2 separate regions of the Homo sapiens genome follow, and region 2 is linked to region 1. Evidence: fine-mapped expression QTL. Tissue or cell type: CD4 T cells. Region 1 holds a variant in brackets; the other region holds the start of a gene. All regions are shown on one strand. Distances are from middle to middle.

The links. PIP is the estimated chance that this variant, and not a neighbour inherited with it, causes the effect.
Region 2: it holds the start of ADCY7, and the variant in region 1 is fine-mapped to the expression of ADCY7 in CD4 T cells (Kasela 2017, PIP 0.91).

Annotation. Positions count from the first base shown.
Region 1 is chr16:50,299,142-50,304,503 of GRCh38, forward strand. It overlaps ADCY7 (adenylate cyclase 7), which reads left to right. Exons shown (of 26, transcript NM_001114.5): 9 at 1,574-1,732; 10 at 1,941-2,073; 11 at 5,219-5,362. Among named protein-coding and RNA genes, the nearest start is that of MIR6771, 9.2 kb to the left of the region's middle. The variant G/T (reference allele first, on the strand shown) is at 2,883.
Region 2 is chr16:50,263,724-50,269,085 of GRCh38, forward strand. It overlaps ADCY7 (adenylate cyclase 7), which reads left to right and starts at 2,828. Exons shown (of 26, transcript NM_001114.5): 1 at 2,828-2,957. RefSeq lists enhancers at 725-904, 1,972-2,565, 2,511-2,600.

The DNA.
Region 1 (5,362 bases):
GGGTTGGGGGTGAAAGCAGCTTGCCTGGACCACCCAGCCTGCTGGAGGATTCAGACTTCATCTGTTTGCGTCCCTCCCTGTGGTGCTGCCTGTGACTCTGAGTCCCAGAAAGCATCTCCGGAGCTCAGAGCTGGGTGATGTGAGGTCAGGGCGGTGGGCTCCGCTCCCCTCAAGGATGGGGTCTTAGCAACAGCAGGAGGCTTCAGGGTAGGCAGCCGGGGGACCTTTCCGACCCAGGGGTCGACTCCAAGGCTCCATCTGCTTCCTGCTCCCCAGTGAAGATCCTGGAGTCAGGCTTGGTCCTGAGGCTGCGGGGAGACCCCCCGCTCCCCTCTAGGTCCCCTGTGGCTCTGAGCAGCTGGGGTCTGTGGGAGGAATTTGCCGAGAGGGCTGTATGGGGAGAGGGCCAGGCAGGCCCAGCCAGGCTGACCAGTGTGGGGCAGAGCAGGGCCCGGTGGGGCTGCCCGTCCTGGATATCAGGCCGTGTTCCAGCCTGTCCTTCTCCTGAAGTCCTGCCATAGGTGGCTGGTGTTGCCAGAAAGAAGCCTGGGCAGAGCTGGAGGGGCCTGGCCTGCACCACTGCCTGTGTGACCTCAGGCTGGCCCCTGCCCTGTAACAGGCGGAGGTTGTACAGGCCCTCGTGCACCTCTGGTTCCGACCCTGGAAGGCTTGGTCAGTGCCCAGCCTTGTTGGTGGACACGTGGTGCCGCTTGTCATGGGGACTCAGGCTCTGTTCCTGTCTTGGGCGTCCCCTGTGCCCCAAGGAAGCTCTCCCGTGGGGCTCTGCTCCTGTGCTCAGTGGTGCTAACAACTCCCAGGGCCCCTGCTTCCCAGGGATTGGGGGGGCATAGAAGGTGCCCATGGTCTGGGCCCCTGTGTTCCTTGTCTATGCTAGGTTTTGGGTGGTTCCTGGACCCCCTCTGTAGACGCCAGTAAACTTTATTTATTTATTTATTTATTTGAGATGGAGTCTCGCTGTGTTGCCCAGAGCGTATCTCGGTTCACCACAACCTCTGCCTCCTGGGTTCAAGCGATTCTCCTGTCTCAGCCTCCCAAGTAGCTGGGACTACAGGCGCCTGCTACCATGCCCGGCTAATTTTTATATTTTTAGTAGAGTCAGGGTTTTGCCATATTGGCCAGGGTGGTCTCAAAACTCCTGACCTCAGGTGATCTGCCTGCCTCAGCCTCCCACAGTGCTGGGATTACAGGCATGAGCCACCACGCCCGGCCCCCAGTAAACTTTTAAAACCCAGCCGGTGCTGCTGGGCAGGGAAAACACCCAGTGATGGTATTTTAGGTCCATCAACATGGGCTGTAGTGACTAGTTGGAATTCCTCCTCCCTCCTACCTAGTCCTTGAGGTCAGCTGTGGCCACACCTACTTGTATGCTCCTGGGGATGGGGCACTCAGCTCTTCCTGAAGAGGCAGCCCCATCAGGCTGAGAACATTCTCTCCCGTGGGCTGAGCGCCTGCCCTGTTCCCACATGCTGCCCTGTACCCACCCCACACCTGGGAGCTTCAGCCTGTCCCAGGGCTTAGGCAGGGCTGGGGTGACTGGGCCACTCTGCCCCAGGCAGGTGCGGGAGGCCACGGGCGTGGACATCAACATGCGTGTGGGCATACACTCGGGGAATGTGCTGTGCGGGGTCATCGGGCTGCGCAAGTGGCAGTATGACGTGTGGTCCCACGACGTGTCCCTGGCCAACCGGATGGAGGCAGCCGGAGTACCCGGGTGAGGCTGGGCTGGGTAGCCGCAGGGACAGAGGCCTGGGGCTGGCTGTGGATGGAGGGTTCTGCGGTTGGGGGTGGGGGTCAGGTGTGGAGGGAGAGATGAATGTAGAAAAGCTGGCCTGGGGCCCAGGCCTGCCTGCTGTGCATCCCTGGGTGGATGCCAGCCCTCTCTGGGCCCCAAGGCTCTGCCTGACTTGGGTCTCCCGTAGCCGGGTGCACATCACGGAGGCCACGCTAAAGCACCTGGACAAGGCGTACGAGGTGGAGGATGGGCACGGGCAGCAGCGGGACCCCTACCTCAAGGAGATGAACATCCGCACCTACCTGGTCATCGACCCCCGGGTACGAGGGCTCAGAGGCCGCAGCTGGGGGGGACCCGGAGGGACTGGAGGGGCCCTGGAGAGCCTGGCCCGCACCTTGGAGGAAACCCCCATGTGGAGGGAGAGGTGGGGAAGGGCCCTGCCTGGGCAGGAGTGAGCTCCCTGTTCCCAGGCACATTCTAGGCACCGAGTAGCCACTCCCTGGGCCTCCATTCTTTTCTATGTGATGGGAAAACAGCGCCTGCCTCACCAGAAGGAGCTAATCCGAGCGAGGCCTTCACAGTGCGCCTGGCACGTCACAGCATTCTATGTATTCTCGTCACTCTTGGTTTATTTTCCATGAGGTGGTTATTAATCTCCCAGATTTCCGAGAGACACACTTTCAAAACAAGCTTTGGATGAAACTCAGGAAAGCAGGGAGTGGCCTGGGAGCCACTGGGCAGGAGCCTCTGAGTGTCCTGGGTGCTGACTGCAGGTCCCCTGGTGGCTCCAGGACCCCACGGTGGAGGAGGCAGTTCCACTGCCCTGGCCAGGTGGGGCCCGCCTTGGCCTGTCTGCTGCCCGACCCTGGCCTGCTTCAGGGAGTCCGGCACGTCTGGCCACTTCTCTGTGAATCATCCATGAGGCTTGCTCAAGAATGTCGGCCCAGCCAGCGAGTGGCTCCTTTCACTCTGGTCCTCGCTATGCCTTGGGGCTGGCCCGACTGCCAGACCCTGGGGGACCAAGGGCTGGCCTGTGAGCCTCCCTACACATCTGCTGGCCTCACTCTGCCCCCAGCACCCCCAGTGCTGCACCATCCATACTGAGCCAGCATCTGGGAAAACCCCTGCC[G/T]GTACCTGTGTCCCATTCCACCACCCTCCTAGAATAGGGCCCTGATCCTCGCCCTGTACCCCGGCCCTGGCCCCGCCCCTCCAAGCCCCTTCCCCTGCTCTCCTGTCCCCCTCACCCCACCTGGTCTCCTCCTGCCCTTCCACTACCAGGGTGGTGGCACCCGCAGGTCCCTGCACTCAAAACACTCCTCCCTCCGTCCCTAATGCCCTTGCTTGTTTATCCATTTTCCTTGTCTGTTGTCAGCATGAGTGCCATGCCGGGGGGCTCCTCCTCTCCAGGCTGCAGCCCCCCACCCCGTGCTGAGATGGATGCCCGGCTCGAAGCTAGTGCTCAGATAGCCCTTGAATGAGTGAAGCAGAGCTCCTCACCCAGGAGGCTCCAAAATCCACCCCCGCAGGCTGCCAGGTTGAGCAGGGAAAACTGCAGGCTGCCTGGGCCGACTTGAATTTCAGATAACTGTAAATCATGTTTCGCATAAGTGTTGCACGCAGTACTCAACTGGACAGTTGTATTTATTTGGCGGCCCCACCTTCCCCCCACCCCACCCTACCCCACCCTCTTTTTTGTTTAACTTCATTTATCCACGCAGTTGAAAGTTCAAAAGGTGTGAAGGGCGTGTTGTAGAAAGACTCCTTGTCCCCAGCCGGCACATCTCAGAGGGGACCTGTGCAGTGAGTTTCTTGTATTCCCTCCACAGGGATTTTCACGGACACCGAGTGAACTGCGAGTCCCCCCACCCTTCTTGCTAAGGTGGCAGTGGCGGGCCCCATGGTCGCGCACCCTGCATTTTTCCTACCTTGGGGACATCCCTCCTGTGTGCAGGGTGCTCGTCTGTAGCTCCTGTTTTTGACATGGAGGTGGATTTTCTGCACTGGCTTCTATGGGCTCTGCCTTACGCCATTGCTGTGTGGCCTGGCTGGGGCAAGGTGGGCTCCTGTGGACTGGATGGTGGCTGCAGCTGCCCCCGTGGGGCTCATACCAATGCCATGCCCATTCCGAGTAGGCATGTGTTTGCTCAGAACTGAGGAATCTGATTTTTGTTTCTGCTTTTTATTTGTTTCTCAGGGGGCTGGGGTGTCTGGATTCTCTGCTAAGTGCCAGTGACCTTGAACTTGAGTGGCTAGGTGCTGTGTAGGCAGAGTTGTCACAATGGAGGAGGGGACAGAGAAACGCATCCACCCCCACCAGGTTGCTCACCACAGGGCCAGCGCGCTCTTCCTGCTCTGGGACACTCACCGAGGCTGAATTCCACGTGGCTCCCGTGGCTAGGCAGATAGATGCAGCTAAGGGCTTAAAAATGTTTCTATCCCAAAAGGAGGTGAGAGGTTTCCAGGAAAGTTGCGCTGTGGCTTATCGAGTGCTTGTAGCTGTGGAGGCTTGTCCATGGGGTGTTTGTGGGGCCCTAGGAGACAGGACTTCCGGAGGCAGAGGAATGTTTCAGGGGCTAAGGAGAGACTCAGCAGACCTGGAGCCCGCTTAAGCTCATCTCTGGTGGCCTTGTGGGTCTTTCTCTTCCCTGTCCCTTTTCCAGTCCTGTCTGGCCACCCCAACTGGCGAAGGCCTCAGGCATGTGTTCTTGGATCGGGGTGGGGGTCTCAGGTCTGTGGCATGAGTGGGGGCGGGTAGGGCTGGCCGTGCATTCAGGGCCTGGCTGAACTACTGAGTGTCCAGCATGAGGCTGGGTCTCGCAGGCACGTGGCAGGTCATGGCCCTGTGCCATCTGCGGTTGGGGGCCACACAAGTGGAACTCCCTGGATCGCTGCCCTGGGGGTTGGCTGGCCTCTGGCTTGGCCATTTCTCGGGGCGGCTAGCACCCCTCTTCCTCCTGGCTGCTTCTCACAGGAAGGAGCGAATGCGTGCCGGCCACACGTGGGAGGGCAGGGTAGGATGCCTGTGGCTTTCCCAGGCGCCTCCTGGGGAGGAGCTGATGGGTGCTCAGGCCCCAGGGACTCTCTGGTTCCAAGGAGCCTCAAGGGCAGTGGGGCCTCGGGCTTGGGACCCAAGCCCTGCCTCTCTCCCTGGGGAGGCAGAGCAGGGTATGGGGTTGGGTACAGTGGTGGGTACTTGCTAGCCTCTTCTCGGCCTGGGGAAAGGCCAGGGCACCGAGCTGGGACCCCATATGGCCTGGCCTCAGAGTGCACCAGGCTTTGGCTGGCTAGTCCCCAAGGGCAGCCGCTCTCCAAGGGGACTGCGGGTTGAGCAACTTCTTTGCTGTTTATTTTTTCACGGGCTCAGGGCGGCGTCACACTTCAGGGAGAGCTGGATGGGGATGGCGGCCCCTTCCTGGGCCGAGAGGGGAGGAGGTGGCACAGGCCCATGTCCATGTCTGCCCGCAGAGCCAGCAGCCACCCCCGCCCAGCCAACACCTCCCCAGGCCCAAGGGGGACGCGGCCCTGAAGATGCGGGCGTCAGTGCGCATGACCCGGTACCTCGAGTCCTGGGGGGCGGCACGGCCCTTTGCACATCTCAACCACCGTGAG
Region 2 (5,362 bases), 35 kb before region 1:
TGGTCAGGGTGGGTCGCTCCCCACCTGCCATTCCCCTGGACTTGCCCTGCCTCCTATGCCCCTTCCCCTTGGCCCCCGATATCTCCCCCAGCGGCTCCATCTCCACGCCGCGCTTTCCTCAGGGTTTGAGCATGTGTCTCATCAGCCTCTCGCCCACTGGGCCAGGTCAGATCTGTTCTTTTTCCTGAATCTACTGAGCATCCAGCACCATGCCCTCCTGCATACGCAAACGGGTATCCCTCAATACCCATTTAAAAATGGACGGGTAATTTACATACAGGCAAGTGCACAAACCTTCAATGTACAGGGTAATGAGTGTACTTAGGCACTCGCCTGTATAACCAGCACCCACAGGGAGATTTAGAACCTCCTCAGCCCCCAGAAGTTTCCTGTGTGCCCCTTTCCAATCAGCGGCCTCCCTAGAGGCAACCGCTGTCTTGCTGTCTGTCACTGTAGATTAGTTTCATCATTTCTGAAGTTTCATATAAATGGAAACGTGCTGAATGTGTCTTTTGTGGGTGGGTCTTTCACTGTCCTTGCCATCTTGGATATTCATTCATGTTGTGTGTTAGCAGTGATCTGTTCCTTTTTACTGCTGAGTAATTTTCTGTTGTGTGAATATATGAAAATTTGTTTATCCATTTACTCATTGCAGGATGTTTGGGTTTGCAGTTTGACTGTTAGGATGAAAGCTTCTCTGAACACTTGGATAGAAGTCATTTGTGGACACATGTACTCATTTCTTTTGGGTAAATACCTGAGATTGAATTGCTGAGTCATTGGGGAAGCATATGGTTTGCTTTTGTCCACACTGCCAGGCAGTTTTCATCATGGTGGCTCCATTTTACATTCCCACTAGCAGTACATGAGAGTGAAGAGCTGCTTCTCCTCCTTGTCAACACTTGGTATTTTCATTTTAATTTTAGCCATTCTAGTGGTACAGTGGAATCTCTATATGGTTTTAATTTGCTGGTGGCTAATGATGTTGAGTATCTTTTTCATGTGCTTATTGGTCATTTTGGCATCCTCTTTGTTGAAGTACCTGTGTAAGTCTCTTGTTCATCTTTTAATTGGGCCATTTGTCTTTTTCTTATTGGTTTGTGGGAGGTCTTTTTTTTTTTTTTTTTTTCTGAGACAGAGTCTCACTCTGTTGCCCAGGCTGGAGTGCAGTGGTGTGATCTCGGCTCACTGCAACCTCTGCCTCCCAGGTTCAAGTGATTCTCCTGCCTCAGCCTCCCAAGTAGCTGGGATTACAGGCTCATGCCACCACGCCTGGCTAATTTTTGTGCTTTTAGTAGAAACGGGATTTTGCCATGTTAGCCAGGCTGGTTTCAAACTCCTGACATCAGGTGATCCGCCCACCTTAGCCTCCCAAAGTGCTGGGATTACAGGCATGAGCCACCATGCCAAGCCTGGGAGATCTTTATATATGCTAGGGAGGAGTCTTTTGTCAGTCATATAGGATGTGACTTTCTCCTAGTCAGTGGCTTGTCTTTCCCCTCTTTTGATGATGATGATGTCTGTTCCTTCTCTGCTCTGGGACATTTGCTAGGGAGACATTTGCTGATAGGAGGGCGACCCTGATGGGGAGGATCCCCTGAGGTCTCCCACTCCCTCCTGTGGCCTCTGGAGCAGCCTGGAACCCTGTGTGAGTCCTATGCCTGTCTCCACCAGATGGCAGACCTTAGATCACCTGCTAGTTCCCTGCATGGGGCCTGGCACAGAGACAGCACCTAACATGTTCAGTTCCTCCTGATCAGTATGTGTGGGATGTCTACTCTGTGACCAGCTGGGGCTGGACGCTGGGGACACAGCTGTTGATATTACAGCTGCCCTCCCATCTCTGCCCTCCTCAAGGATATAACCTAGGAAAGACAGACCAGCAACCAGTGGTCACAGCACAGAGGTGCTGTGATGGAGGAAGGTGCAGGGGTTAGAAGACCAGAAGAGGGGTGTCTGACCCTGGATGTGGGAGGTGGAGGAGGTACACCATTGCTTTGAGGAGCTCGTAATCCCAGGATGCCAGTCACATGCTCAGAAGGGCTCCCTGAGGACCAGGTGCTGCTGTGGCCAGCGGGCTGGAGGCCTCCCCCTCTGTTTTGGGAGTCTCCACTCTCTCCTCTTAGCCTCTCCTGATCTGCTCCCTCGCCACTGAGCGCCCCATGATCCCAGTGGGGAAACTGAGGCCTGGCATAGCAGAAGGGGTGCTGGGGTTTGATTCCCAGCCTCATGGTGCCCAGGGATGTTGGGGGCTCTCCAGGGACTCTGATTTTGGAATAGGAGCCCCAAGGATGGGCCTGCCCCTGCCCTGCTCCCAGCATGGGAGCGTAGGTGAGATGGAGAGGCAGTGGGCTGGGCTGGAAGATCTTTGACCTCTCCTGGGCCCCTCTCAGAGGTGGACGGGGCCACCTTACTACATAGATAGGGAAATTGAGTCCCAGGAAGGCGCGGGGGGCCTGTCTGTGAGCGTCAGAGCCCACAGGAGGCTCAGGCCAGGCCGCTAATTGCTAATTGCTCACTAAGGATGCATTTGCTCCCCACTTTGAACAGTTGTCTTGGGGCTTCTAATGGAGGTTTTTGGTGCTTGTTTTATTATTATTTTTTCAAAATTGTTCCAGCTTCAAGCTTCAAATTTCCATGAAGTCATTGGAGCCCGACAGCTCCCAGGCCTGGCAGCTCCCAGGCTGCGGAGAGCAGCACTGTGGCTGGGGGAGGGGGCCCTGCACACCCCGAGAGGCTGGGCTGTGGGCTGTGCCTTAGCCTTGCTGCCGCCGCCGCCGCTGCTGCCGCTGCCGGAGCAGGAAGTGGTGGGTCCCAGATGTGACTCACTCTCATTAGGTAGCGTGGAAGGAGCCTTCGGATGGGTGAGCCTGGGCGCGTCTGAGGAAGGGCAGGCGGGGGCCGGGCCACCTCCCTGCAGACCCTGGCCGGCTGCTGGGGCCGGGGAGGAGAGCCAGGTAAAAGTGGGGTGTGGGGATGGAGTGTCACCAGTCCTAGTGGCTTGAGCCCCAGGGGACGGGGCTGGACAGTGGGTGGGAAGCAGCTCACCCGGCAGCCTGGCCTGGGAGTGCACTGGGCAGGGTCTGGGCTGGGGGAGTAGGAGGCTCCGTGAGCCTACTGGGCAGATGGCTGGGAGAGGCGGCCCTTCAACAGGGGACCAGAGGCGACTTGTCACTGGCTTTTCCCAGCCTGACAAGAAAGTGCGGTTGTGACCACAATGTTGTACATGTGGCCCGTTCCATCTGGAATTCTAGGAACCACAGACTCTCAAATGTCCACACTCCTTCTCGAGGGTGTAATTTTACATTTACAAGCACACATGACTTTTCTCAATGAAAGGAAACATTGGCAAGGGAAGGCCAATTCAACTAATTTTATGAAATTATAAAACAAAAAACAAACAAAACCTCTGAAAGGAGTGCATGCCTGAGGGTCAGGAAACCAAGATGCCTCCAAAAAGCAGACTGGTTTCCCTTTCCCTGCAATGCCTCTCCTCTATCCCCCAGGGACCGCATGGGCCATCTGGAGTGGGTCTTTCTGGAGCGGGTCTTTCTGGAGCTTTCTATGCATTCATCTAAACATGTATGTACAGAGGGTGAGGCAGTTGCCTCTTCTCTGTGTCATCACATCAGGGTCAAGGGCAGGGACATCTGTGGCTGGGGGCTTCCTCCCTGGACAGCCATTGCTGGAGAGGAGAAGGGAGGGCCGGGAGGGGGAAGCCAAGGGCCTGGAGGTAGGGGCCAGGCCGAGCCACCTACGACAGGGGCCCTGGGTCCAAGGCCTGGACGGGCAGCCAGTGTGGGCTGGATGTGTCTGGAAGGGCTATGTGACCGTGGGCCTTCACTAGCATCACCATCTTGCAGATGGAGGCTGTGAGGGGTGGACTCAACACCAGTGTTTCTCGGAGTGAGGACCGGGCTGCCCAGGGAATCACAGGGGGTTCTAGCCTGTGTGTGGAAGGACATGTTTAAAATCTAAGTATTTGTCTTGGGGAAAAAAAAATCTGTAAATAGGACATTGCCATTGTGACATCATGACTGTATTATTGTCTTAGACGAGGCCAAAGGAGACATAAAAGTGACAAGCCAGCCAATTTGAGAGGAAGTGCCAAGTGCCAGCCCTGCAGGAAGTGCAGGAGGCTGAGGGGGCTGCAGCTCAGGAAGGCGTTTGCTGCACAGCCTTCGCTTCCCACCCAGTTGTCTGTCTTCCCACCTCCAGAGGCCCTGGGTTCCCAAGGTTTACCTGCAGCTCCTGGTGCAGAGTGTGGGGGAGGGGAGGCTCTCAGATTGTTCCAGATTCTGTGGCCCTCAGAAGGGCAGGTGTGAGCTTTGTGGAGGTAGCGTCTCCGGTGGTATTTTCTTTCTTTCTTATTTTTATTTATTATTATTTTTTGAGATGGAGTCTCTGTCTGTTGCCCAGGCTGGAGTGCAGTAGTGACCCTCTTGGGTCACTGTAACCTTTGCCTCCTGGGCTTAAGCCGTCCTCCTCCCTCAGCCTCCTGAGTAGCTGGGACTACAGTTACCACACCACTACACCTGGCTAATTTTTGTATTTTTAGTAAAGTAAAGACGGGGTTTCACCATGGTGGCCAGGCTGGTCTCAAACTCCTGACCTCAAATGATCCATCCACCTCGACCTCCCAAAGTGCTGGGATTATAGGTGTGAGCCACCACCCCCAGCCTCTTTTCTTTTTTTAAGACAGGATCTCACTCTGTCACCCATGCTGGAGTGCAGTGGAGTGGTCATAGCTCACTGCAACCTTGAACTCATGAGCTCAGGCAATCTTACCGCCTCAGCCTTCTAAAGTGCTGGGATTACAAGCATGAGCCCGACGCCCAGCCTTCTAGTGCTGTTTTCATGAAAGAAGCAGCTGTTTACTAGCAGCTGTTTTCCGGGTGATGAGGGTGAAGGTGGTATTGCAGAACATCTTTGCCAGGAGTAGGTCTGGGAGGTTTGCTTGAGGGCATGGAGGTTGGTGTAGGGAGAGCTCAGGAAGTAGAAATTGGGCTGGAGTGTGGCCTCTGGACAGGCCACAGGAGAGTCTCAAAAGGAGAAAAGATCCCAGCACTTTGGGAGGCCAAGGTGGGCGGATCACTTGAGCCCAGGGGTTCGAGACCAGCCTGGGCAACATGGCGAAACCCCGTCTCTACAAAAAATACAAAAATTAGCTGGGTGTGGTGGCGTGTGCCTGTAGTCCCAGCTACTTGGGAGGCTAAGGCAGGAGGATCCTTTGAGCCCAGGAGTTGGAGGCTGTAGTGAGCCATGACTGTGCCACTGCACTCCATCCAGCCTGGGTGACGGAATGAGACCCTGTCTCAAAATAAATAAATTTTTCAAAAGAGACAAAAGTCCGACTCGATGG